2 separate regions of the Homo sapiens genome follow, and region 2 is linked to region 1. Evidence: fine-mapped expression QTL. A gene starts in region 1. The other region holds a variant in brackets. All regions are shown on one strand. Distances are between the middles of the regions.

The links.
Region 2: its variant is fine-mapped to the expression of SWAP70 in blood mononuclear cells (TOPMed, PIP 0.99).

Annotation. Positions count from the first base shown.
Region 1 is chr11:9,662,438-9,665,345 of GRCh38, forward strand. SWAP70 (switching B cell complex subunit SWAP70) reads left to right here and starts at 1,640. Exons shown (of 12, transcript NM_015055.4): 1 at 1,640-1,841. The coding sequence starts at 1,743. RefSeq lists enhancers at 818-1,017, 2,128-2,247 and a silencer at 1,488-1,987.
Region 2 is chr11:9,739,776-9,742,683 of GRCh38, forward strand. SWAP70 (switching B cell complex subunit SWAP70) reads left to right here. Exons shown (of 12, transcript NM_015055.4): 9 at 406-572. Among named protein-coding and RNA genes, the nearest start is that of SBF2-AS1, 17 kb to the right of the region's middle. RefSeq lists an enhancer at 681-800. The variant A/C (reference allele first, on the strand shown) is at 1,772.

The sequences.
Region 1 (2,908 bases):
CTGGCAGACTTGGGCTGGAAATGGGGAAGATAAATGATAGAAATTGGATTCTGGTAGGGCAAGAAAAGTCCTGACAAATGGTGATGAAATGGGGTAGAACCTTCAGGACAGTCACAGTGAGGGGCTGGCCACCCTTTTGCTCCTGCCCCTTCTTTCGTCAGTGGGGCCATCCTCTCCTCTTCCCCACCAGTTCCTTTTTGATCTCAAACTCACTGAAGAGGCTCCTTCTTGTTCTTCTCTTTCCAAATATCCCTTTCTTATGAAGATCTTTTCCTTTCTTAATAAGGCAAACATGTGCATTAAGGAACTTAAAAAAGCAAAACAAAACCAAACTTCATCTGAGAACCACCTCATTTTAAAAACTCTTGGTGTTTATTGTTCTCTCCAATTAGTCCAGGATTGGAGAGGAGAGGTACTGAGCCTGGCGATTTAATCAGACCTTAGTTAACCGGCAATAGTTATTATCCTAGGATGCTAGTACTGCAAGAACCCTTCCAGAACATCTGGTGCAACCCTGCTCTTTTTATACGGGATAATTTGAAGCCCAAAGAGATCAAGTGACCATTGTGACCACCGCGAACAGATATTAATTCAACAGCTGCAATCGAATACTTTTTTTTTTTTTTTTGAGACGGAGTTTCACTCTTGTTGCCCAGGCTGGAGTGCAATGGCGCGATCTTGGTTCACTGCAACCTCCGCCTACCGGGTTCAAGCGATTCTCCTGCCTCAGCCTCCCGAGTAGCTGAGATTACAGGCATGTGCCACCACGCCCGGCTAATTTTGTATTTTTAGTAGAGACGGGGTTTCTTCATGTTGGTCAGGCTGGTCTCGAACCCCCGACCTCAGGTGATCCGCCCGCCTTGGCCTCCCAAAGGGCTGGGATTACAGGCGTGAGCCACCACGCCTGGCCGAATACGTTCTTTTAAATGGTCCATCTCTTTGGATTAGTAAAATGGGTGGAGTGATTTGGAATTGGCCCAGATCTCCTATTCTGCAAGCAGAGAAACACTACAGAGAGGTATTACCCAGGTCAAACCCCTCCTAAGATGTGAATTGAACAACAGCTAGGCGTTAGGAAGAAAATGCTGCCTGACCCTGACTTCTAAACTCCCCTTAAACGTCGTCGCTGTGTCCCTAGAACCCAAGATAGAGTATGCATGAATAAACTTTTGCGAAATGAACCAACAAACTTCCCTCGAGGTCCTTCCTGCCTCCCCGCCGCCCTGCATCTCCCCGACTTGGGACTGCGCTATCATTTCAGTCCTGGTCTGGGGACTTTTCGGGGTCTTCTCTGGCCTTCTCAGACAGTGACTCCGTTCCCAGGACAGGACCAGGGATCCCTTTTTCACTGCGGGGCGCTGGGAGGAGGCGGGTAGGCTGCTCACCTAATCTCTCGGGTTTTTCCTCAAGACGCGGTCATTTGTGTGAGGTGTTGTACTCGAGCACCCAAAATGGCCCGAACTGGTCTGGGAAACATTAGGGAGATGTGTTTACCGTCCTGGCTGACACTGAAGGCCAAGCATTCTTGCCACCAGGCGTGGCTTGACTCGCAGAACCCACACTCTGGCGGCTGTGGGCGCGGCACTGGACCGGCGCCGGCAGCAGGGCGGGGCCTGGCGGGGGCGGGGCCTGGCGGGTCAGGTGACTGCGCGGCGGGCTGTGGCTGCGGAGGTTGAGGGGCGTCCGAGGCGCGGAGGGGCTGGCTGGGCAGGAGGGGTTGGCGGGGCAGCAGGGCCGCGGCCATGGGGAGCTTGAAGGAGGAGCTGCTCAAAGCCATCTGGCACGCCTTCACCGCACTCGACCAGGACCACAGCGGCAAGGTCTCCAAGTCCCAGCTCAAGGTGGGCGCCTCCTGACCCGGCCCCCCACCCGACCCTCCCCGGCGCGCTCTGTACTTCCCTTGGGTGGAAGCGGGACCTGGCGGGCCGTGACCGCAGGGCGGGGCGGGTCGGAATGCGCCCGGTAGGCCCGCTTGGGGCGGAGTGGGTCTGAGACCGGGATTTGGTGTTTACTGCCTCCCCCTTGCCTTCGGGCCATGCCCTCGGTTGGATGTGTTAGTTCCCGCGGGTCTCCCAGGGACTGGGAAGGGTGGCGGGCATAAGGCTGGGGTGAAGTCTGGAGGGCCAAGTGTGATTCCTTCTTGGCGTTGGAGAGCGGGGGGCAGAAAGTGGATTCTGAGGCGGCAATGGGAAGCTCCCTTACACAGCCTTCCCAGAATTTTCCTCTTACTCCAGGAGAGGAAGGGACTTGCCCAAGGTCGCTGGGCAGAACCTTCTGCAGCCCACAGCCCCACACCAGGACAGTCCTCAAAACGGCTAGCTGCCCCGGAGGCGACAGGGCAGTCCGGAGACGCAGAAATGCCCCGAAGCCCGGCCTCCAGGGTCCTTCTCCTTTGGGAGGCTTTTTGACTTGGGAAGACCTTCCGCCCAGCGTCTTTTAAGTTTGGAACTAGTGGACGGGGTGTACTGTGTCCCACAGGGACCTTAGTTCCGGGTGAGGAGCGCTGATCTTTCTGGCACCCTGCAAAAGCGACTGCTTTTTCAGAGTCGTTATTGTGACTGCCGGAGACCCTAGAGTATAGGGTATAAATAAAGGGATGCTTGTAAATTGAGTAACCCCAAGCAGCGAAATTGGCATTAAGCCAGCAGAAATTGGCAGCTTCTTCAAAGTAAAAAAATATAGAAACAGACAAGAAAAGCTATTCATAGGCATTTAAAAATATACATATTTTAGATCCGAATGTCCGGTTTTCTTAGCCCCTTCTGGGAATAAATTCTGAAGATTGGGTTTGTTTTGTATATTTTTGTACAGTAATCCCGTTCTTCTGAGTAGTGGCTTTTATGCCAGTAGGACTTAACATTCTCCTTGTCTTCCTTTTGCCTCTCCTTTCTTTTTCTCACTGATAGAA
Region 2 (2,908 bases), 77 kb after region 1:
GAAAAGGTTCGTTTGCTCTGACTGGGAAAAGGTTCGTTCCTTTTAGAGAAGACCCTATTGGTAAAAAGATTGTGACTTTAAGACAGAAAGGAATTTAGAGAGAAATTACACAAGGAAACATTTTTTTCTTGACTTGAGTCTTAAAATGTGGAGTGGAAGGGATGGAAAATACAGCAGGGCAGAACATAATTTGGGTTATAATTTGCTCTTCCCAGACTCTTTCACTATTGCGATTGGGTGTGGTACCCTCATCTCCTCCATCTTTAAGTTCAAGGATTGAAGGACAGGGTCCTGCCACCCTGATGGGCTGAGGCTGCAGCTGTGGGCAACCCCTCAGGTGGAGGTGAGGCTTTCCCTGAGAAAGAAGTCAACCTGCATTTAAACAAGACCCTTTTATACCAACAGATCAGACAGCAGATGGAAGAACAGGTTGCTCAAAAGTCCTCTGAACTGGAACAGTATTTACAGCGAGTACGGGAGCTGGAAGACATGTACCTAAAGCTGCAGGAGGCTCTTGAAGATGAGAGACAGGCCCGGCAAGATGAAGAGACAGTGCGGAAGCTTCAGGCCAGGTGCCAGATTTGTTTGCAGACTTTGCCTTTATGTACTTTGCCTGGGCTAATACAGTTTCTTGGAATGACTAACACTCTGGTGGAGAGGGAGAAGTGTCTCTGCTCTGGCTGTGACTGAGCTCGAGGTGCTGTCCAGATTAGAAAGACTGTGGAGACTCGACCGGCTGGAGTGTTTCTTTTCATTCTGAGGCGCTGGGAAACCCTTGCTTCTGGGGCTAAATAAGGGCCTATTTTAGAGCAGTCTGGTAGGTATGTTTGATGAGGTACCCTTAGTCTTATTCGAGAAAATCCACAAACCCAGAATTACCTCTGATAAGAGCTTGGCATCTTCAACACGCTCCAGACCAGAGAGGGCCATTGGTATGCAGGCAGAGGCCTGTTCAGGCCAACGTTGCCGTCAGGTTTTGAGGAATAAGGAAGAAATATGCAGTTTCTATTTGGTCATTCAGGATTGGTAACATTCCTTCAGTAATTACTACTTGAAATCCTAATTTTAAAAGTATTTGAAACCTAGATTTTTTTTCCCCTTAGAACTTTATGATAGTCATGTTCGCAGATGAAAATTCTCAATTTTGGGCCTTCATGGCAGCAGGGAGGACAAAATAAAATGAAGACTCCCAAAGGGAAAAATTGAGCCTATCCTCTGCCAGTTTCTACTTTGCTGCCCCATTTACATTATTTAAGGTGTCTGGGATGGGAGACAACACTAAAAAGTATTCACTACAGTAGCAGCACAGGGTCCAGTCTTTGATCTCTGACCCCCTGTTTTGGGGAGCAGTTATGAGATGAGCTAGGGTAGATTTTCCATGGCTGCCATTTTACATGTGGAGCAGCAAAAGATGTTTCTTTAATCTTTAGATAGGAAGAGAAAGAAGAAGCCATCTTTAGTTGTATATTTTGCCAAAAGTGACTTCAAAAATAAATAAATTGTTTTGGACATTTAGATTTTAAATTTAAATTTTTTTAAGGAAAAATTATTTTCTAAATAGAAAATTAAGCATGTAGCATATTGCCAGGCATATATAGGCCCCACAGGTGCACATTCACTGCACTGTGAGGTTAATCAGGTTCTTGGAACTCCCCTCCAGTGCCACTCGGCAGTGATTTTAGCAGAAGAGTCACTCTACGGGAATGTTTGAGTGCCATGTGACGTCCAGAGTGACGTTCTACATGACACTCAACATTTTTTGAGCCACCTC[A/C]TAATTTGAGCCGTGTTGAGAGTTAATAGATTGTTTTTGTGCAAAGAATTCGCAGGTGAAATATGCTATATGTATTACTGCAGTTTTGTGGGAAGTTGATTATGACACAGCAGAGACTAGATCACAGAGGGAACCAGATAATTCTAGAAATACTAGTCTTAGTTATTTAGTGTTTATAGAATGAGTGATATTTTGAATAAGGGATAATTTTGGATAATTGAAGCCAGTGGTTTTTTAACCAATGTTATGTATCAGAATCACCTCACAAAGCTTCTGAAAAATACACCACAAAGTGTGGCTCACCCACCACACTTTGGGAGGCCGAGGCTGGAGGATCACTTGAACCCAGGAGTTTATGACCAGCCTGAGCAACATGGTGAAACCTCATCTTTAAAAAAAAAAAAAAAAAAAAGTCTACTTGGGAGGCTGAGGCAGGAGGATCACTTGAGTCCAGGAGGTTGAGGCTGCAGTGAGCTGCATTTGCACCACTGTACTACAGCCTGGGGGACAGAATGAGACCCTGTCTCAAAAAAAACACAAAACAACAACGGCAAAAAACTCCAGCTAATTATTTTGCACACTCTGATTTAAGCAATAGCAAAATGGTTTCAACCTTTTGAATCCAGATGTAACTTCTACATACAGCTCTGATCCAATATGCTGAAAGTACTGCACACAAATTTAACTTTTTCTTAATGTGCAAAGGGCATTTTATGAATATAATTATTTTATTATTCTAAATTTTTTTTTCTCTTAGTTTTTGGAACCTGAAATGGACAAATTTGCCCCCCTGCTCCCTTTTTTTTTCTGAGATGGAGTCTTGCTCTGTTATCAGGCTGGAGTGCAGTGGCGTGATCTCGGCTCACTGCAATCTCCGCCTCCTGGGTTCAAGCGACTCTCCTGCCTCAGCCTCCCGAGTAGCTGGGAGTACAGGCGCGCACCACCACACCTGGCTAATTTTTGTATTTTTAGTAGAGATGGGGTTTTGCCATGTTGGCCAGGATGGACTCCATCTCCTGACCTTGTGATCCGCCTGTCTCGGTCTCCCAAAGTGCTGGGATTACAGGCATGAGCCACCACGCCCGGCCTAGTGGTCATTTTTAAGTGAAATGTGTTCCTCTTTCCTGAAGTCACTGA